Linked DNA regions of Homo sapiens: regions 1 and 3 are each linked to region 2. The links come from fine-mapping of genetic effects on gene expression. A gene starts in region 2. Each other region holds a variant in brackets. All regions are shown on one strand. Distances are from middle to middle.

What was found. PIP is the estimated chance that this variant, and not a neighbour inherited with it, causes the effect. A credible set is the group of variants that fine-mapping cannot tell apart.
Region 1: its variant is the best candidate, but not a certain one, in a credible set for the expression of BPI in whole blood (TOPMed, PIP 0.62).
Region 3: its variant is the best candidate, but not a certain one, in a credible set for the expression of BPI in prostate (GTEx, PIP 0.64).

The regions. Positions count from the first base shown.
Region 1 is chr20:38,338,868-38,346,333 of GRCh38, forward strand. No RefSeq gene overlaps it. Among named protein-coding and RNA genes, the nearest start is that of LBP, 3.9 kb to the right of the region's middle. RefSeq lists enhancers at 3,334-4,110, 4,891-5,668. The variant G/C (reference allele first, on the strand shown) is at 4,311.
Region 2 is chr20:38,300,711-38,308,176 of GRCh38, forward strand. BPI (bactericidal permeability increasing protein) reads left to right here and starts at 3,446. Exons shown (of 15, transcript NM_001725.3): 1 at 3,446-3,643; 2 at 6,857-6,971. The coding sequence starts at 3,514.
Region 3 is chr20:38,277,417-38,284,882 of GRCh38, forward strand. The region is part of intron 1 of LOC149684 (a long non-coding RNA gene); the gene reads left to right. Among named protein-coding and RNA genes, the nearest start is that of KIAA1755, 20 kb to the left of the region's middle. RefSeq lists a silencer at 2,742-2,851. The variant C/G (reference allele first, on the strand shown) is at 4,057.

The DNA.
Region 1 (7,466 bases), 38 kb after region 2:
TAATTTTTGTATTTTTAGTAGAGATGAGGTTTCATCATGTTGGCCGGGCAGGTCTCAAACTCCTGACCTCAGGTCATCTACCTGCCTGGGTCTCCCAAAGCGCTGGGATTACAGGGGTGAGCCACCGAGCCCAGCTGTTCAAACATTTTAAATTGAGTTACCCTTCCCTGATCACATAGCCAGCAGGTGGCAGAGTTGGAATTCCCACCTTATCTATTCCCACATGTCAGAGCCCATGCTTTTTTTGCTCCTCCCCGATGTCAAAATGTTGTCTGTTCTGGGGGACTTGGCACGTTTAAAGCAGAACTTCTTTGTTCTGTGGCATAGGTTGTACACTGTAAAACATAGGTTGTACCAGGTTGAGGAAACAAAAGTCTTTCTCTAATTTGTCCACCAGTAGTATGCATCTTTTTCTCCACTAGCCAGGGGCTATGGAGGCCCTGAATAGAACAGAAGAGCAGCTAGCAAGGGCGGAAGGAAGAGAGAGAAGGGAAGCACAGCGTGGGATAGACTGGGAGGCCATGAGGACTGTTAAGGGCTCTAGGTTTTGTTCCAAAAGATAAGGCAAGCCACTGGAGAGTTTTGAGCAGAAGAATGTTACAATCCAATTCACATTTGTAAAAGAGCCCTCTGGCTGCTGGGGAGACTAGCTGGTAGATATGGACACACACCTGCCATCCCCCACCCTCATTCTCTTTGGAGTTAACCCCCTTCTACACCTGCCCTCTACTTTCTGTAACATATAGGCACCCCCTGCTCCACACTCTATAGAAAAAAAAAAAAAAATGCAATTATTAGGTTGGTGCAAAAGTAATTGCGGTTTTTGCCATTACTTTTAATGCAAAAACCGCAATTACTTTTTTTTTTTGGAGACAGAGTCTCGCTCTGTCACCCAGGCTGGAATGCAGTGGTGTGATCTTGGCTCACTGCAACCTCTGCCTCCCGGATTCAAACCGTTCTCCTGCCTCAGCCTCCCAAGTATCTGGGATTACAGTCTCACACCAGTACGCGCGGCTAATATTTTGTGTACATATATTTTTAAATATAGACAGGGTTTCTCCATGTTGGCCAGAGTGGTCTCCAACTCCTGACCTCAAGTGATCCACCCACCTTGGCCTTCCAAAGTGCTGGGATTACAAGTGTGAGCCACTGAATCCAGTCTTGGCCGTTACTTTTAATGCCAAAAAAAATAATTACTTTTCCATCAACCTAAATCTTTCTTGGACCTGAAGATTGGTGCATGAAACACATTGTGCCTGCGAACTTCTCTCTAATGGCTGAGGAAAGGCAGTTGCTTGGGGGTTAGGGTTTGAGCAGCATTCCCCAACACACTCCAAAGGTTCTGCCAAGTTGGCTACAGAACCACTATTTGAGCAGCTTCTCCCTTCAGGCTAAGCATTGTCTGCTGCAGATGACTGCAAATGTGTGTTTGGGGTTTCTTTGGGTGACGTTGAAAATGTTCTAAAATTAAATTCTGGATTGTACACTTTAAATGGGTGAATTTTATGTATATGAAATATATGTCAATAAAGTGGCAAAAGACAATTGAAGAAGAAAAAAAAGAATTGTTCACTCCAAACTGCCTAAAAGCTCACCATCAGAGCAGCTTCCCTTCTGGGATAAGCACAGCCTTCCTGGGGTTCCTTTTGGAAATGCTGACTTATTAAATAAATATGAGGGAGGAGTACCCTCTGCAAGGAGAGAAGGTGGGGAGGGGCACAGGAAGACTAAGCACTGTCTTCATCATTTTGCCATGTCCCGCTAGTGGCCATGAGCAGCCCTGTCCCTGGGTCTATCTCTTCAGGCTTATGATCCTATTTAATCCTCATGACAACCGCTAAAGGTAGCCAAGGTTGCCCTTGTTTTTCAGATGAGGAGTCTCTAGAAAAGTCGTGTGGCCTGCTAAGCTAACTGTTCAGAGCCTGGGCTCTGGAGTCACCTGGCGGTGGTTTCAAACATAAATCCGGCCCCCTCAAGAGCTGTGTGACTTTGCAAATGTTCCTTAACCTCTCTGGCCCTCTATTTCCTCCTTTGAAAAGGAGAGTTAAAATCTTGCCCTCTCGGCATGAGGTTATTGGGAAGAATCAGAGGTATGATTGATAGGGTCATGGCACAGTGGTTAAGAGTATGAACCATGATCCCAGATATCTTGGGTTTAAATCCCACGTCTGCTATTTACCAGCTGTGTGACTTTGGGCAGTATACTTAATTCTCAGGTTTTCTATTTCTCATCTATAAAGGGAACATCATTATAGTACCTACCTCATAAAGTTGTTATGAGAATCAAATACATGTCAAATCCGTGGTACAGGGGTTGACAACAGTAATCCAAGTTTGCTCTAATTTGAATAAACGCAGTTCTTCTTACTATACTGTAAAGACTATATCTGACCAGGTGCAGTGGCTCACGACCTGTAATCCCAGCACTTTGGAAGTCTGAGGCAGGTGGATCACTTGAGCCCAGGAGTTCGAGACCAGCCTGGGCAACATGGCGAAACCCAGTCTCCACTAAAAACACAAAAATTAGCCGGGCGTGGTGGCACACACCTGTAGTCCCAGCTACTCAGGAGGCTGACGCACGAGTATCATTTGAACCCAGAAGGCGGAGGTTGCAGTGTGCTGAGATCACACCACTGCACTCCATCCAGCCTGGGTGATGGAGTGAGACTCTGTCTCAAAAAAAAAAAAACAAAAAAAATACTATATCTGGCTACAGTAGTATTCCCAATGCCTGCCACATAGTTGGTGATCAGTAAGTATTTATTTTAAAAATGATCTGGGATTTCAACCCACATCTGCATAACTCAAAACATTTATGCCAGTGATTCTCAATGTATGATCCAGGGCTGTCTGCCTGAATGGGCCTGACCCCAAGAATCAGAGCCCCTGGCTGGCCAGAACTCTGGATTTATCCTCTCCAGTTCAGCAATAGGCTCACAGTGTAACCTGGGCCAGTTCTCCCTCTCTAGGTCTCAGTTTCCCCATCTGTAAAAGTAAGGGCTCTCTGGGGTGAGGAGCTGTTTATCCACATGACCAGCCCTGCTCCATGGGGGCTCCTGGTATCTCAAGACACGCAACCTTCAAGCCACAAAGGATCGTCACTGACGTTACTACTTTTATTTTGTAAGCCCGCATGTCTCAGGGCTCATGTGTGTGTGTCTGTGCGTGTGCGTACACAGGCACACATTCAGATCTGCAGGTGATGTGGCTTGGGGAGAGGCTGCCATAAATATTAAACTCCCAACTCCAAAGTACCCTGCAGAGATTCAGAACTGCAGGAATTCATAACATCATTCTCTTTCAAGAGTCAGTGTTCTCAGGAGTGTGGGCACCGTCATAGAAAACTATCGAAAAGGAGAGTGAAGCATTAGAGAACTGCTGAGCTTGGAGGGAACTCGGAGCTCATTTAGTCCCTTGTTCCCGAAGCTCCAAGCACAATCCGTGGTCAGCAGCATCACCCTCACCAGGGAGCTTGTTAAAATGCAGAGGCTCAGCCCCAAGAGGAACATGATGGATCAAGATTTGCATCTAAACAAGATCCCTGGGGGACTTGACTGCACGTCTTTGTTTCTGAAAAGCTGTCCTAGTCCCCAGCCCTCATCTGCATTTGGGGGAAACATGAGGAACAGAGAGGGGTGGAGTTTGTTCCAGGTCCCCCAGCCCATTAGGAGCAGGGCCTTGACAAAAAACCTGTAAGACTTTGGAAAAGGATTCAAAGCTCTCTGCGAGAGGCAGGCGTTTGCACAAAAGATGAATAAGTGCAGAAGAAATGCTCAGTGTTGCTAATTGTGTCCAACAGGGTTCAGGCAAGAAAAGAGAATCCAACTGCATTGGTTCTTGGGATTTGAATAAAGTGGCTATTTCTAGAGTTGGGGGACAAGCTTGAGGAAACCAACCAGGGACTGTTTTTCCTAAGGCTCAAGCAGCAAAGAAAAGCATCTGGGTATCCCAGCCCAAGGAGATAATAGGAGCCAAGGACAAGGCCTTATCAGGAGGGACACAGCCAACTGCCACACTTGTGATCTAGAGAAGACAGCAGGGAAAAGTGCCCTGACATCTGACCTCCTGCCATGCCACCCTCTGGCTGAACCCAAGTAGAGATGAGGAAACTGAGTCACAAAGTGCCCAAAGTCACCCCGTGGGGGAGTCAGGATTCAAATCCAGGCCATCTGGCCCCAGAGTCCATAAAGATAAACATAAGGTTTGTTTATTCCTTTGGCAATTATCTACTATTTGCTGCTCAGTATTCTAGACACTATGGATTCCAAATTCTGGGTTTTTCAAAATCTTTTCAGTAACACTTTTGTAGT[G/C]AGAATATTATCGGTGGCGAGTCCGCAACACTCCCAGCCCTTGTCTTCTCAGAGGAAAGAATTCAATTGAGAGACGCAGGCAAGTTTTAAAGCAGAGGCAAAGGTTTATTGAAAGAAGCAAAGTACAACTGAGAGATCAAGTGCCCCGCTCAACCTTTGGCTCGGGGCTTTTATACACTGGCTTGGTTCTGGGGTTTCTTCTCCTCCTTGATTCCTCCCTTCGGTGGGCTGCTGCGCCCTCCCTGCATGCGCAATGGCCTGCCAGCACTTGGGAGGGGCCGCATGCGCAGTGTGTTTACTAAGGTTGTGCGCATGCTCACTTGGGGTGATTTTCCCTTACTGGTCCGTCGCCGCAAGAAAAAGGTCATATACAAGTCAGACTCCAACATTTGCCCTTCTGCTCGACCTTACCAGGGAATTGTGGTTTGCTGGCTCCAGATGATGTCAACTATCTGTTAGGGAACTCCTCTCCCTCTTGGCGCCATTCGTGGCCACTTATCATGTCAGAGGGACAGTTTTATGATCGCCTGTCCATCATTTGATGCACTGCCATTTCTGGGGGCCCTCTCCTGCACAAGAACACAATAAACAGCCTTGTTAAAAGAGTCCCTATTTCACTGCAATAAGACTGAGTGGTGGCCAGAGTGGTAGCAGCTGTTGCTTTTGTGGAATTGGATGGACAGCCTGGTAGGAGAAAGGCCCAGGGGTTCTGACCAGCAGTGGGGTCGTGCTGCTCCCTGAGGCCTCTGCTGGGTCCTGGGCCATCAGCAGGGACCTTAGCCAGCAGTGGGCACCTGCAGGGGTGGAGGCCAGGCCTGGGCCATGTGGCAGCTCTAAGGTCCAAAGATTGCTGCTGTGGGAAATTCCCACCCCTGCAAATGACTCCCAGCCAGGGACATCCTTAAACTGCTGCCAGAGGAAGAGTGACATCTATGTCCCCATAAGATCCTTATGCTCCAGAATGTCCTCCCCCACTCTCCTCCCCTCCTGGGCAGGCTGAGGTCCAGGAAGCAAAGGCCCCTAGGCACACTGGGGATGCACCTGTGAGCCCTTTCCTGCTCCAAAGCCTCCCAAAGGCTGGCTCCTTACCCTGAGGCCTCTGCTCAGCTTGTTGCCTCCCAAGAGAACCCTGCCCTGACCAGAGTTTTGGAATGGCATCCTGCAGACCTGGACTTAAATTCCTGCTGGGTGACTGCAGCCTACATCACTTCACCCTGCCAAACCTCAGTTTCTTCATCTCAAGACAAGACTAAAATATCCACCTGGGGTTGCTGATGCAAGGATGAGAGGAGACGTGCAGCTTAACCAGCACAGCGCCTGCACATAGTAGGTGCTCAATAAATATCAGTTTCTTTCCAATTTCTGCTGGGTGCTGCAAGGATCTCAGGAAATGGAAGACTCAGCCGTGCCTGCAAGGAGCCATCAGACTGGTGGTGTGGGGACTGAGGGGAGGGACGGATGAGGATCCCAACAAACCTCAGCCCCAGTGACAGGAGCAACACGGTACAGAGGAGCAGAGAGGCCTGGACTGTGGGGTTCCCTGTGCTTAACGTGGGACATTCTGATCTTAACCTCAGTGCCTGCCAGTGCTGTTTGTGACCTATTGGGAGTCACCCTGTTAATCCCACCACATTCAGTTGGTTGAGGCCATCATGAAAACCTGCCCAATTTCAAGGGAAGGGGGCAGAAACATTACCTTTTGATGGAAGGAATATCAAAGAATTCGTGGGCATATTTTTAAAGGACCACAATTATCAAAAAGCAGAGTGGTTAATGCTGTGGTGGGGAAAGCGCAAAGGGTTCTGGGACCTCAGAGGGGACCCTTTCTAGAATCCAGAGAAGCATGGGAGTGGTCAGGGAAGGCTTCCTGGGGGTGAGGGCAAAGCAGAACTCACAAATGTAAGCAGGGCTGGGGCAAAACTCTAAAAATTAAACACAGTCTGTACTATAAATTTTGTTTTCCAGAATGAAATTTTACTATCTTTACTTACTGCGAATATATGCCCGGGACCATACCCCCAAGAAAATAAAAATTTTAGAGGCTGGGCATGGTGGCCCAAGTCTATAATCCCAGTATTTTGGAAGGCCAAGCGGGAGGCTTACTTGAGCTCAGGAGTTCGACACCAGCCTGGGCAACATAGCAAGACCTCGTCCCTACTAAAATACAAAAAATTAGCTGGACATGGTGGCTCACACCTGTAGTCCCAGCTACTTAGGGGGCTGTGGTGGGAGGATCACTTGAGCCCAGGAAGTTGAGGTTGCAGCGAGCGATGTTCATGCCACTGGACTCCTGCTTGAGCAACAGAGTAGACTTTGTCTCAAAAAATGAAAAAAGAAAAAAAAATTGTACGTATCAACAAGCAAAAACTTTTTTAACACTTATAATTCTACCCCCACAACCAGAGACAATGCCTCATGACTCCTTGCTAAATATTTTCCAGATTGTTGAACATAGAAGCCTATTTTGAACCCCCCAAAATAGAACCTTACTCTATGGTGCCATCGGAAACGGATGCCTCATGACATCCCTTTCCTTGCCAAGAAATACCTTTATTTCTGCAGCCTCACTTTAAGGGGCATGTCATAATTCATTTAACCAATGCCCTTCTGGTGGATACATGAGGTTGGGTCTCACTTCTCCTGTCCTGTTTCCCACAGCATAGCAGTGGTATCTTGGAGCAGTGATTTACTGGCACACTGACTCAATTATGTATTTAAGGGCAAGTCCCTGAAATTGAATTCCTGGGTCACAGGGCATGCAACTGTTTAAACATTTGCCAATTGCCTTCCAGAAAATTTCACCACCAGCAAGGTTTGAGAAACACTGTTTTCCCATTGGGGGAAACATTTATTTTTTAAATAAACGAGCCAATATATTTTAAAAAAGAGAGTTTGGTTGGTGCCAGATGTAGCTTCACTCTCAACCCTGCCCTCTGCTGGGGGTGAGATCTCAAGGGAGCTATGTGGCTTTTTTGAACCTCAGTTTCCTCATCTGCTAAACCAGGCCTTCCTAGCCGAGCTCTTAAGAGACTGGCTGAGATGAGGCAAGATGAACAGTGATGAATATGGGGTCTTTCTGTGGGGAGGGTGGACAGGGATGATCATAGGAGTCAGGCTTCCTCATCCACTGATCTGGGCAGTGAAAACTGGCTTCTA
Region 2 (7,466 bases):
GACTGCCTGGCTCTAAACCCAATTCACTTTCTTCTGGAAAAAGTCGTCAGCCTAAGGACGGAAGAGCAGGAAAATAGACAGATCCAGCCCTTGAACTGACCAACTCTTGATCCACCCCATCTGTGAATTTCTACTGAGAAGAATATATTTTCCCTATGATTTAAGCTGCATCAAATTGAAATAGCAGGAGAAGAGTTTTGGGGGATGACAGGATTCTTCTATATCCTGATTGTGGTCCTGGTTACAACACATAGCTATACATGTATCAAAATTCCTAGAACTAAAAGGAACTCTAGGAAGCAAATATGGCAGAATGTTAAGGTTTTATAAACCTATGTGGTCTATTCTTTTCTTAGGTTTGAAATATTTTATAATAATTTTAGGGAAAAGAAAAAAACAAAAAGCAGGAGGAGGAGGAAGAGGAAAAGGATATTTGGGGAAAGTCTGTTTAGATGGGATGGCTGGAGCTGCTGCGGCCATCTTGCAACCATGAAAGAAGCCAGTGTAAGAGCAAATCTGAGACACGGGGATGGGAGAGCAGAGAGATGGAAAGATGATCCTGCAGATGTCGGTCAGTTGCTGAATCAATCAGAATCTCAAACCTGTCCTCCTCCCTCTGGACTTCCTCTCTGCCATAATAAATTTGTTTATCGTTGAAGCAATGTGAGTTGATGGTTTCTGATACTTGGGTTGAAGACACTGTTACTGATACAGGATACGGGGTCAGATCTGAAGCAGTGGGGCAGCCCCATGGCCAGCAGCAGTGCTGACAAGGAGACTGTGGAAAGTCACTGATGTGGCTCATCTAGATGTGGCTGGGCATGAGACATCGGGGAAGCCAGTGGGGTTGCTTGTTCAGAAACTTGCCAGCTGGGTTTTTTTTTTTTTTTGGTGGGAGGTTGTGGGGGGACAGAGTCTTGTTCTACCATCCAGGCTTGAGTGCAATGGTGTGATCTTGACTCACTGCAACTTCTGCCTCATGGGTTCAAGAGAGTCTCATGCCTTGGCCTCCTGAGTAGCTGGGATTACAGGTGAACACCACCATGCCTGGCTAATTTTTGTATTTTTAGTAGAGACAGGGTTTCACCATGTTGGCCTGCCTGGTCTCGAACTCCTGGCCTCAAGTGATCCACCTGCCTTGGCTTCCCAAAGTGCTGGGATTACAGGTGTGAGCCACCACCCCCGGCCGTCAGCTGGTTTTAAGATTCTAATTTTATAGCAATGTAGGTCATTGTCATGTGATTTCATCTTAATGTTCCTTTCCTAGCTGACACCCTCACGGATACCACATCTACCTGGGCCTTGGGGAACTCAGGAACTTCGAGCAACTAAGAGCTGGAAGTGTTCAAAAATGTGCAAGATAATTTTTCAAAAATCTAATTTTTGTGACAAGTCATCAATCTATGTGTTCTGGCTGCTACTTAGAGCAATCTTCCTGGTACAGATGCAGACATCTGAGTCTGGGGGCTCAAATCACTTGGAAAAAGGGAGAGCTGGGGTGAGGGCCTACAGTCATGAGTCCTCCTGGCACCTGCCTCAGGTAAGGGAAAATCTTCTCTGCGTGAAAGGAGGAATGACCATGACAGTGATGTGATCGCTGCATCTCAGTTTCCTTGTTTCCAAAATGGTGAAGAGGTCAGGCACGGTGTGGCTCGGCCTTAATCCCAACACTTTGAGAGGCTGAGGCAGGAGGATTGCTTGAGCTCAGGAGTTCAAGACCAGCCTGGACAACATAGTAAGACCTCATCTCAATAATAATAATAATAATAATAATAATAATAATAATAAAACAAAATGGGGAAGAATCATCCCTCTCTCAGGGTTGTTTTTTGGCTTGGAGATGATGCATATGAAGCATCTGGCACACAGTGGATGCTTCACACACGGCCACTGCTTTCATTCTGAAGCAAGCCAGAAGAATTCTAGTTGCTGCAGATGGAAGCAGGAGGGGAGACTCTTTTAGAACCAAACGAAGAGAGGAAGAAAAAAACTTTTAAGAAAAAAAGAAGAAAACTTCAGAAGGTCTCACGTCCTCCGAGCTCAGCGGACTTCATTAGACTTTCATAAAGTCCAAAGTCGGGGAGACAGGGCACTAGGGGGCTGATGAGGACCCAGCGGGAGAGAAGCTGGCTGCCCCTTCTGCAGCCCCGCCCCTCCTCTCATCACCATGGAGACGGAGCAGGCTGCCCAGTGGGGTTCCTGCCCACCCGAGGCCTGAGGCTGCTGCAGAGGGAGGGGCAGGGGCTGAGCAGACAGGGACCTGTCTGGAAAGCTGGGTTGGCGGTGGGGAGTGTCTACATCCCCCCAACTCCCAAGGCGCTGAGGGATTCGGGCTGGTGTGGGATGCATCTGGAGGGCTGTGTTTTGATCCTCGCTCTGCTAGCAGCTTGCTGAGTGACCGTGGGAAGAACGCTTCCCCTGGTGAAGCCTCAGGTTCTACATCTGCCAAAGGAAGGAGTAAAAATGTACAAAAACAGAAGCTTGGATAAGAAAGCTGTGGGATGAGGAAGCAATGAAATATTTAATGCTGGAGAAGAACATTTGCTACCTATTGTTTCTCGAAAAAAGGGAACTTTACCAAACTGACCAGGTGATCCCATATTGGTTAACAAACAAACATGGACTCTCTACCTATGCTTACCAACAAAAGAGGGAGAAAAGAAATACTCTAAAATACACTTTGGCTTGTCTCCGGAAGAGGGAGTTATATGTAATTTGTATTCTCTTGTTTCTTTCTCAAATTTTGGCCAATAAACATGGGTTACTTTTAAAATCAGGATAACATTAATAGCTAGCATTTGGATATTTATTTTGCACGGGCAGTATGCTAAATGCTTTACGTGGTTTTAAGCTCATTTTATCTTCTCCACAATCCAGAGAGGGAGCAGTACTATGTATTTCTCTTCTGCAGAAGAGAAAACCGAGGTTCAGAGAGGTTAAAGGGCTTGCCTGAGGTCGGACCACTAGAGAATGACAGGGCTAAGATTTAAAACCATAGCCAAGATACTAGACTCTAAAATGTGAGCATTGAATCATTACCACTACTGCCTCTCAGGACAAGAAAACACGAAAGCATCTGTTTTCTTAAATGTTTTACTATCAAAAATACAAAAGAAATCAAAAGTAGAAAGAAAAATATGAATCCTTATGTCTGTGCCACCCACCTTCAAGGGAGTCTGTAGATGGGGGCATTTGGGTGGGGACACAGAGCGGGGAATGGGGTGCCTAGGGAGGGGAACCAATCTACACACACACATACACACACGCACGCCCGCGCACACACACGCATGCATACATGGACATGCGAGCCTCCCAGGCTGCACTTCTCCCTGCCTGTGGGGCCCTAACCACAATGGAAAACCACAGCGGCCCTCCCTCTTTCCCACCCTCACCAGGTTCCTTCCTCCTTTCCACATTCTACTGACTTGCATTTCCCCAGCCGACTCTTTTATAGCTCCCTGGTTCAACCTCAAGGCCTTGAGGTTTTGGCAGCTCTGGAGGATGAGAGAGAACATGGCCAGGGGCCCTTGCAACGCGCCGAGATGGGCGTCCCTGATGGTGCTGGTCGCCATAGGCACCGCCGTGACAGCGGCCGTCAACCCTGGCGTCGTGGTCAGGATCTCCCAGAAGGGCCTGGACTACGGTAACTGGATGCCTCCCTTCCCTCCTCTCCACCCCTGAGGAGCACTTACTTAGCATCTACTGTGTGCACCCCTTTAGATCCAGCACCTGGCACACTCATAGCACCTCAGGGCAGGTCCCCTTGCCCCCATTTTATATATGAAGAAACTGAGGCAAAGCGAGTTGCCTAAGATTGCAGGGCTGGGATGGCAGAGCTGGGATTGGAGCACTGGTCTAGAGGACTCCAAGTCCAGTGCTCAGACCCCTGAGGGTCCTCATGGTCCCCTCCTTCCCTCTATGTAACCTCCACCTTTGACTTATAAGCCCTTCTCTTCTTTCCAAAGCCAGTTCTCAGCCTTGCCATTTGCCTCTCGTTGCTGAGGAGGCTGAGCAGGGTCAGAGGGAGAGTGTGGGAGGACCTCCCCACCCCGTGCTCTCCCCACTGCAGGGGCTGGCGGCCATACTGTGCACAGTGCTCCACTGGGTGACACAAAGAGGGTCCCCCCAGACCACTCACCCCAGCCCAGGCAGAGGAGAGAAAGACCTGCTCTAACCTGTGCCAGGCATTGAGCTAGGAACTTTACACACACAGTCTCTTTTACCCTCACTTCAGCCTTGTGTAAGACAAACTGCTGCTATCCACATTTACACGTGAGAAGTGGGCAGCCTGGATTTGAGCTCTGGTCTTGCCTGATGCCCCAGCACGGGGTTGCTCGATGCTGCCTCCCGATGGCAGAGAGATGACCTGCAAAACAGTGGGTGACACCCAGCCCCAGGGAAATCAGACCAAGGGGAAGGCAGAGCCTCACCAGTTGGGGTGCGTTGGGAAAACAGACAGGACTCAGGGGACCTGGTATCCCACCCCTGAATTCCCACCCCAGCCCAGCAGGACATCACTGAATCCTAGAGCTGCAGACAGAAGGCCACAGAAGACAGAAGAGCTAGGGGGAAGGAGTATGGCCCTGAAGCCTGTCGACACAGAGGCTCAGTCAGGGTCTTTAAGTTCAGTGGTCTTCATGCTCCGTCATAGCAGCCTGAGTTTCCCCTTCTACCCAGGCCCCTTGTGCCAATCGGAGTGAGTTTTCTGAAATGCAGCAAATCCCTACACATCCTCCCCTGGCTCACATTCTCCATGGCTCCCTACTGCCTTCAGAAGCTATCCTGACCCTTTGGCATGGCATTTGAGACCCTTCGAGGCCTGGCCCCTGTCAACTTACAGATCCTGGCCACTGCACATTTTTTTTTCCCTCCACACAGTGACCAGTTATGTGTCATTTACTTTTGAACCCCCAGAAAGCCTTCTCTAGGGCATGGGCTCTGGGACCAGAAGGCCTGGGTTCAAATTCTGCCCCTTGTCCGCTGTGTGGCCCCTAGCAAGTCACCTCAGCTTTCTGAGCCTCAGCTTCCTTATCTGTGAAATGGGGGTAGTGACAGGACCTACTTCCTAGGATTGTACAAATTCATACATATACGGAGCCTAGAACAGTGCTTGGCACAGAGTAAAGCTCGATACATTTCATTGATATTATTATTTCCTAACTGGCTCCGAGAAAACCCAAAGTCTGGGCTCCCTCATCTTACTACTTACTCCTTTTCAGGTAATGTGTCTGCCTTTTAATTGGTTCTTTGATGCTGTTAGCCACATTATAACTGGTGGTAGAATTCCTGCCATTAGGACATTATTTATTCATCTAATAAATCTTTTTTTGTTTTGTTTTGAGACCGAGTCTCGCTCTGTGGCCCAGGCTGGAGTGCAATGGTGCCATCTCAGCTCACTGCAACCTCTGCCTCCGGGGTTCAAGTGATTCTCCTGCCTCAACCTCCCAAGTAGCTGGGATTACAGGCGTGCACCATCACACCCAGCTAATTTTTTGTATTTTTAGTAGAGACGGGGTTTCACCATGTTGGCCAGGCTGAACTCTTGAACTCTTGACCTAAAGTGATCCACTTGCCTTGGCTTTCCAAAGTGCTGGGATTACAGGCGTGAGCCACCGCACCCAGCCTCATCTAACAAATCTTAAGTGCCTTCAAAGTGTCAGGCACAATGGGAATGTAAGGGACACACGAGTAAATAAAACAGATTGCTGCTGACTTCAGGGGGCTTACATGTAATAGGGGAGAGACATTCGTCAGAGTCACGTGAATAAATGCATAATTACAAATGGTAACAGGGGCTCCGAAAGAGCAGTCCACAGCATCATGAGAATAACACAGGGCGTTGCTCTGATCTACTAAGCCAGGGAGGGTTCCCAGAGGAAGTGATGAATGAGCTGACTAGAAGCTGACCGGGTGAATATGGGAGGGAAGAATTTCTTAGGGAGCAAGAATAGCATGTGCAAAGGCCCTGGGGAGACAGTCCAAAACCCAGAGAGGTGGGAGATCTGTGGGGGTGTAGCATAGAGCAAATAACAAATTAAGTATCCAACAAAAACTAGCAGGAGGCATAACTGGGTGTTTCAGGGGTGATATTTTAGACCAGGGGTCAGCAAACTACAGCCCTCCGTTTTTGTATGGCTTATAAGACAAAAATGGCCTTAATGTCTTTAAATGATGGGAAAAAAATCAAAAGGGCCGGTCATGGTGGCTCATGCCTGTAACTCCAGCACTTTGGGAGGCTGAGGTGAGAGGATCACTTGAGCCCAGGAGTTCGAAACCAGCTGGGCAACATGGTGAAACCCCAGATCTCTGCAAAAATGTTAAAAAAAAATTTTTAAAAAGTTAGCCTGGTGTGGTGGCGAACACCTGTGATCCCAGCTGCTAGGGAGGCTGAGGTGGGAGAATGACCTAAGTGCAGCGGGTCGAGGTTGCAGTGAGCCGTGATCATGCCTCTGCACTCCAGCCTGGGCGACACAGCGAGACCCTGTCTCAAAACAACAACAAAAGAAGAAAAATACTATCTCACAACATGTGAAAATTATATGAAATTCTCATTTCAATGCCAACAAATAAAGTGTTATTGGAATACAGGCACATATAAGAACATGATATTGTCTATGGCTGTTTTGTGCAGTAATGGCAGAGCTGAGTATTTGTGACAGAGGCAATATGGTTTCCTATAAAGGGTCAGTTTACTATTTGGCCTTTTCTAGGAAACCTTAATTGATCCCTGTTTTTGACCCTTCCAGTGCCACTGTCCATGCTACGAACAGGGGCCCAGGGTCCAGAGCCTGCCCTGCCCCTCTGTCCCCTGCTCCAGGCTGTGCCTCTCACTGTCACCCCTGCCTTCTCCCTTCAGCCAGCCAGCAGGGGACGGCCGCTCTGCAGAAGGAGCTGAAGAGGATCAAGATTCCTGACTACTCAGACAGCTTTAAGATCAAGCATCTTGGGAAGGGGCATTATAGCTTCTACAGGTGAGGCCTATCAGAGCTCAATCCTCGATTTGCAGGACTTGTAGTGTTCTGGGGACACCAAGAGCTAGAATGCAGAGCCACAAACTCCTCAACTCACAGAGTTTCATATCCCAAAGCCTGCATTTACATCATCCCAAGGGGAGGCAACCTCCCAGCTGAGCGTGGAGGAAGCCACAAAAACCACGACTCCCAGGAAGTGTGTCATGAACCCCCAAACTCTGCGCCATATGTCAATTAGAATGTGCAAGTTTTCAAGGTCAGAAAATCTTTTCTAAAATGGCTTAAGGCAGAATGCATTGGCTCACATGGCCGGAAAGTCTCTGGAAGAGTCTGGCTTCAGGTTCAGCTTGAGGCAGGCTTACATGTCACTGGGCCCTGTTTCTCTCTTGCCACCTCTCAGCATCACTTCCTTGGACAGGCCTAATTCGCAGGCAGTGTGTCCCCTCCAGAGGCAAGACAGCCACCAGTAAGTCTCTCTAGATCTCCTGCTCAGCA
Region 3 (7,466 bases), 23 kb before region 2:
GTCTAGGCAATGGGAATTTCTCAGCTCCATTATAATCTTACGGGACCACCATCGTTGTTGACCGAAGTGTTATTATGCAGCACATGGCTGTAAGTGTGAGAGATTAGGCAAATTTCCTGTGCAGAAGAATTCCAAATAGTTTATGTAGATACTTCACCCCCAAGAAGACACAGCATAAATAAATAACTTCCACTCCTAAAGTGTGGACTGCACATAGTGACTTCCTTCCAAAAGTTACAGTATGGGAAAGAGGAGAAAGAGTAACTTTACCGTGGAGAAATCTGACAAATATGACCTCGGCCAGGTGATCAAGGCCAATATCAACAGTAATAAATTGTGTTAATGCTACATACTCTTGATATGCTGTGTAAGGATGGGGCGCTTCAGATACAGGCTGCCTTAGACATCTCTATTCTGCCCCCACCTGCCTTGCAAAGATGTCCTCAGGGAGAGAGTAACTGTCTTCTCCAGGGCCACACAGCATGCTGGGAGGGGCAAATACCTGACTGGCCTCTTCACAGCATCAACAGAGTTACCACACCTATTTCACAGAGAAGGTAAGGGGGACCCTGAGGGCTTGTACAATTTGCCCACATCCCCTTACAGTGGTCCAGCTGCAAAAAAAAAAAAAAATAGTAGAGGGGCTCCCCAAACCACACACACCCCAAATAGCCACAGCTTAGCTCAGCTTCCTCCCATCCCTGGATTCTCAGCACTGAGATGTCTCCCTCCCCGACATTCTAGCTTCCTCTCCCTCTTTTCCCACAGGGACGGCCCCTTTCCCTCTATGGCCCCACTTCAGAGCTCTGGGGCTACCCAAGGACACCCCAGGCCTCTTCCTTACGGTATGAACAAAACTGGGCAGATGCTATGGCGGTGGCGCCACGGAGGGGGCCGGGGTCATGTTGCGGCCTCACGCAACAGGCGGCTGGGAGCTTAAGTCATGGTGAAAGGGCTAAATTGTCCTGTGCAGCTGTGCTTGTTTTTCTTCCCCGTTTCAGTCCGCAGCCCTGATAGGGGAGGGGGTAAGCTGGAGGCGGTCACTTTTTTTCCTGCCTGTGTTCCCCCATCCCAGGGAGTCCTCCAAGACTGTCCTCCAGGAGCCTACACGTGCTGCTTTCACCTGGTTTCTTATAAAGCAGAGTCTCGGGTCTGCGGAGTGGGAATGGGTCTTCATGGATCTAGCTGTTGAAACATCAGAATGATCCATGGGGGTGCAATCCAGGCAGACATCTGCCTCCCCCAATAGGATTAGAACCCCAGGGGCTAGGAGCAGAATTGCAGTGTTAATAAACACAGATGGTTAGTTAGACCCAGCTTGACTATACAGATTGAGAAAAACTGGGGCCCAGAGAGGGACAGAGATTGCTCAGGGTCACTGAATAAGACCTATGGCTAAACCTAAGCTAACTCCATTCATTCATTCATTCATTCATTCATTCATTCATAAAAACATTCACTCAGCATTGACTACTTCCGGCCCTTTGCCAAGGGTTTAGCAGGGCGGGAGTTGGCTCACAAGATGCTCACAATAAGCAAGCATGTATACAACAAACATCCTTCAAAAGTGCAGTGACAAGTACTGCAATTGAGATGTCTGAGATACCACAGGAGCCCAGGAAGGGTACTTGACCAGGCAGAGGGGAAGTGGTCAGGGAGGGATGCCTAGGGGAGCTGATAACACAAGCAGAATCCTAAAGGAGCCATAGAATATATCTATGCAAATGGCCAGGCACTGTGGCTCATGCCTATAATCTCAGTACTTTGGGAGGCTGAGGCTGAAGGTTGTTTGGGAGGCCAGAAGTTTGAAACCAGCCTGAGGAAGGAGTTGGTTGAACTTGTTTGTTTGAGACCAGAGAAGCAAGACGTCATCTCTACAGAAAATACAAAATTAGCTGGGCATGGTGGTGTGCACCTAGCTACTTGGAAGGCTGAGGTGGGAGGATGGCTTGAGTCTAGGTGGTTGAGGCTTCAGTGAGCTATGATTGTGCCACTGCACTTCAGCCTGGGCAACAGAGTGAGACTCCATCTCTGGAAAATATGTGTACAAATAATTTTTTTAATTAAATGAAAATTTGAAAAACAAAGGAGGAAGGACCCTCCAGGCAGGAGGATCAGCATGAGCAGAGGTTTGGAGGTAAGAGCGGTGTGGGTGGGCAGCAAAAAGCAGTTCAGTGTTGCAGGAGCCCAGATTTGTGTGGCAGGAAGAGGCAAGAAGTTTATTGCACCTGCTGAGTGCTTACTATATGCAGGGCCCTATTCAGGCACTGGGTTTAGGCACCATGAGCAAATGTACACAAAGCCCCTGCCCTCATGGCTCTTCCATTCTAGGGGAAAGACAAGAAAAAAACCAAACCAATAAGCAAACCAAGGCATAATATTCATGAGGAGGTAAGTGCTGAGGGGGGAAATAATGCAGAGTAAGGGGCTCCTATTTCATGACAGGTAGCCAGAAAAGGCGTCTTGATGAACACATCCTTAGCGGAGACCTGAAGGAGGCAAGGTAGTGAGTGGCGAAGCATTTGGGTAAAGCATGTTCAAGGAGGAGGGAGCAGTGAGCACAAAGGTCCTGAGGCCTGAGCAAGGTGAGGCTGGAGAAGGTTGGCAGGAGCCAGTTCAAAAAAGGACCTTACATGACATGCTAAGAAGTCACTTTCCTCTTCTTCTAGTAAAGTATAAGAAGCCAGTGTTGGGGCTTTGTGTTAGTCCATTCTCACACTGCTATAAAAAAATCCCCAGCTGGGTGCAGTGACTCATGTCTGTAATCCTAGCACTTCGGGAGGCCAAGGCAGGCAGATCACTTGAGGTCAGAAGTTCAAGACAAGCCTGGCCAACGTGGCAAAACCCCATCTCTACTAAAAATACAAAAATTAGCCAGGCATCATGTCACAGGCCTGTAATCCCAGCTACTTGAGAGGCTGAGGCAGAAGAATCGCTTGAACCTGGAAGGAGGTTACAGTGAGCTGAGATCGTGCCACTGCACTCCAGCCTGGTGATAGAGCAAGACTCCATCTCAAAAAAAAAAAAAAGAAGAAGAAGAAGAAGTAGAAATACCTGAGACTGGTAATTTATACAAGAAAGAGGTTTATTAACTCATAGTTTTACATTGCTGGAGAGGACTCAGGAAATTTACAATCATGGTGGAAGGCAAAGGAGAAGCAGGCACCTTCTTTACAGGGTGACAGGATGAAGTGAGTGCCAAGCGAAGCGGGAAGAGCCCCCTTATAAAACCATCAGGCACACACTCACTATCACAAGAACAGCATGGGGGAAACTGCCTGCATGATCCAATTACCTCCACCTGGTCCTGCTCTTGAAATATGGGTATTATGGGGATTATAATTCAAGATGAAATTTTGGGTAGGGACACAGCCAAACCATATCATTCTACCCCTGGCCCCTTCCAAATTTTATATCCTCACATTTCAAAGCACAATCGTGTCTTCCCAACAGTCCCCCAAAGTCTTAATTCATTCCAGCATTAACCCAAAAGTCCAAGTCCAAAGTCTCATCTGAGACAAGGCAAGGCCCTTCTGCCTATGAGCCTGTAAAATCAAAACCAAGTTAGTTACTTCCTAGATACAATGGGGGTCCAGGCATTGGGCAAATACACCCATTCCAAATGGGAGAAATCGGCCAAAAAGAGGGGCTACAGGCCCCATACAAGTCTGAAATCCAATAGGGTAGTCATTAAACCTTAAAGTTTACTATGTAAACTTTAAGTAAACCAAAATGATCTCCTTTGACTCCATGTCTCACATCTAGGTCATACTGATGCAAGGGGTGGGCTTCCAAAGCCTTGGGCAGCTCTGCCCCTGTGGCTTCAGAAGGTACAGCCCCCTTCTCAGCTGCTTTAGTTGACTGTCATTGAGTGCCTGTGGCTTTTCCATGTGCATGGTGCAAGCTGTCAGTGGATCTACCATTCTAGGATCTGGAGGACAGTGGCCCTCTTCTCACAGCTCCACTAGGTGGTGCCCTAGTGGGAACTCTATGTAGGGGCTCCAACCCCACATTTCCCTTCCACACTGCCCTAGCAGAGGCTCTCCATGAGGGTTC[C/G]AACCCTGCAGCAGACTTCTGCCTGGACATCCAGGCATTTCCATACTTCCTCTGAAATCTAGGCAGAGGCTCCCAAACCTCAATTCTTGACTTCTGTGTACCCACAGGCTCAACACTACATGGAAGCCACCAAAGCTTGGGGCTTTCAGCCTCTGAAGCAATGGCGTGAGTGGTAACTTGGCCCATTTTAGCCACGACTGGAACTGAAGCAGCTGGGAAGCAGGGACGCACCATGCCTCAAGGCTTCACAGAGCAGCGGGGGCCTGGGCCCAGCCCACAAAACCGTTTTCCCCCCTAGGCCTTGGGACCTGTGATGAGAGTGGCTGCCATGAAGGTCTCTGACATGCCCTGGAGACATTTTCCCCATTGTCTTGGTGATTAACATTTGGCTCCAGGTTACTTATGCAAATTTCTGCCGTAGGCTTAAATTTCTCCCCAGAAAATGGATTTTTCTTTTTCTATTGCATCCTCAGTCTGCAAATTTTCCAAACTTTTATGCTCTGCATTCTTTTGAATGCTTTGCCACTTAGAAATTTCTTCTGTCAGATACTCTAAATCATCTCTTTGAAGTTCAAAGTTCCACAGGTCTCTAGGGCAGGGGCAAAATGCCACCAGTCTCTTTGCTAAAGCATAGCAAGAGTGACCTTTACTCCATTTCCCAAAAAGTTCCTCATCTCCATCTGAGACCACCTCAGCCTGGACTTCATTGTCCATATCACTATCAGCATTTTGGTCAAAGCCACTCAACAAGTCTCTAGATAGTTCCAAACTTTCCCATATCTTCCTGTCTTCTTCTAAGCCCTCCAAACTGTTCCAACCTCTGCCTGTTACCCAGTTCAAAAGTCAATTCCACATTTTTTAGTATCTTTATAGCAGTGCCCCACTCTTGGTACCAATTTACCGTATTAGTCTGTTCTCACACTGCTGTGAAGAAATATCCAAGACTGGGTAATTTATAAAGGAATGAGATTTAAATTGGCTCACAGTTCCACATTGCTGGGTAGGCCTCAGGAAACTTACAGTCATGGTGGAGGGCAAAAGAGAAGCAGGCACTTTCTTCACAGGGTGGCAAGATGGAGTGAGTGCCAAGCAAAGGGGGAAGAGCCCCTTATAAAACCATCAGATCTCGTGAGACTCACTCACTGTCATGAGAACAGCATGGGGGAACCCTCCACCTGGTCCCCCCTTTGACACTTGGGGATTATGAGGATTATAATTCAAGATGAGATTTTGGGGGGGACACGGCCAAACCATATCAGACTTAGAAAACAATACCCCAAAATGAAGGCCTCAGAAGTGAGTTTCTTCTCTGACCCCCTCCTGCCCTCCTAGCTCTCAGTCCTATTCCTGAAGGCTAGCCATAGAAACTAGCATGTGCTATAGAAACCAGAACCTCTTCTCCCCAAAGCTAGTCATAAAACCTAAAAATACTACTCTAATTTTCCCTCCAACTTTCTGTATAAAAACTGGCCATAAAGAAATGATCTTTCCTTTGACTGTAGGTCATAAGACCCCCCATTCCAGAAAAGGTCCTGCCCCATCCCCAGAAGGAAGGAGCACTGCTCAGAGAGGCCAAGAATAATCTAGATAGGCGGGTCATGCTGGGTTCCCACTCATTCTATCAGCATTCGATCAGACCTTTTTGTCCAGTCGTATTTCTACATGGCTGTTTATACTTCATGGAACCTAAGCATAAAAATGAACAATTTCCTCTGTATCTTTGGGTCTTCATTCTAAAGACTCCCGTGAATACACATTAAATACATTTGTGTACCTTTTCTCCAGTTAATGTGCCTTTTGCAAGGTGATTTTTCAGAGAACCTTTAGGGGGCTCTCCCTTGGCCCCATGCCAGCAAAAGGTTTAAACAGAGAGGTGGGGGCATGCCCCAGGTTAGATTTTCAAGTTCCTCTGACTTCCATGTGGAGAATGGACCAGGTGGCAGCAGGAGGGCCAGTGAGGCATCTGTTACATGGACCGGGCTGGAAGTGATGGTGGCCTGGATGGTGGACGGAGGGCATGGGGGGCTGAGGAGGAGAAATGGGGTGCTGAACTAACTAGCAAAGGGGCAAACCCATAGGGCTAGGCTGGTTGCTGTTGCTGGGTTGGTCAGGGTGATGGCAGGTCATGGGAGGAAGGCAGGCCCACCTCTTAGACAGAGGCAAGCAGGGATGAGCAAGGCTGGGGAAAAGACACATTTAGTTTTGAACGCCTGAGCCTGAGGCTCCTATGGGACATCCCTTCTCAGGGATGATGATCTGGGGCTCCAGAGAGATCTGAGCTGGAGAGGAGGTTGAGGAGTTGTCATCATGATGGGGGGTTGGGAGTACTGCCTGACCCACTTGTCATTTGCCTTGGCTCATGACTATTGAACTGGGAGATAAGGGGGCCCAGGACAGAACCCCAGAACCCAGGAAACCCCCAGGGTTAAAAGATGGAATAGAAGCTCACAAGGAAGGGAACCAAGGAGTTGTCTAGGCCCCAAGGAGAATGAGGGGAGTGCCAAAGGATGCTTCAGTGGGAAAGAGACAGGCAATGTTAAAGTTGTCCCCAGACCTACTAAATCAAGGACGAAAATATGTCCCTGGAATGTTGGCAGGCAGTAAACAGAATGACACTGCTCTCAACAGACTGATGTGGATCTATCTGCAAGGTTGGCATGTGTCTGTAGTCCCAGCTACTCAGGAGGCTGAGGTGGGAGGATCGCTTGAGCCCAGGGGTTTGAGGTTACAGTAAGCTATGATCGCACCACTGCACTCTAGCCTGAGTGACAGAATGTGACCCTATCTCTAAAAGTAAAAATTTAAAAATGCCAGGCACGGTGGCTCATACCTGTAATCCCAACACTCTGGGAGGCCAAGGCAGGCAAATCATTTGAGCCCAGGCGTTCAAGACCAGTCTGGGCAACATGACGAAACCCCGTCTCTACAAAACATACAAAAATTTGCTAGGCGTGGTGGCACATGCCTGTAGCCCCAGCTACTCAGGAGGCTGAGATGGGATGATCACCTGGGCCTGGGAAGTGGAGGCTGCAGTGAGCCAAGATTGCACCACTGCATTCCAGACTGGGTGATGAAACAAGATCCCCCCATCTCTAAAAATAAAAATTAAAAGAGGCCAGGTGCAGTGGCTTATGCCTGTAATCCCAGTACTTTGGGAGGCCAAGGTAGGCAGATCACTTGAGCCCAGGAGTTCAAGACCAGCCTGGGCAACATGGTGAAACCCCATCTCTACAAAAAATACAAAAATTAGCCAAGCATGGTGGTGCATGCCTGTAGTCCCAGCTACTGGGGAGTCTGAGGTGGGAAGATCACCTGAGCCTGGGAAGTCGAGGCTGCAGTGCATGGAGATCACAGCACTGCACTCCAGCCTGGGTGACAGAACAAGACCCTGTCTCAAAAAATAAAATTAA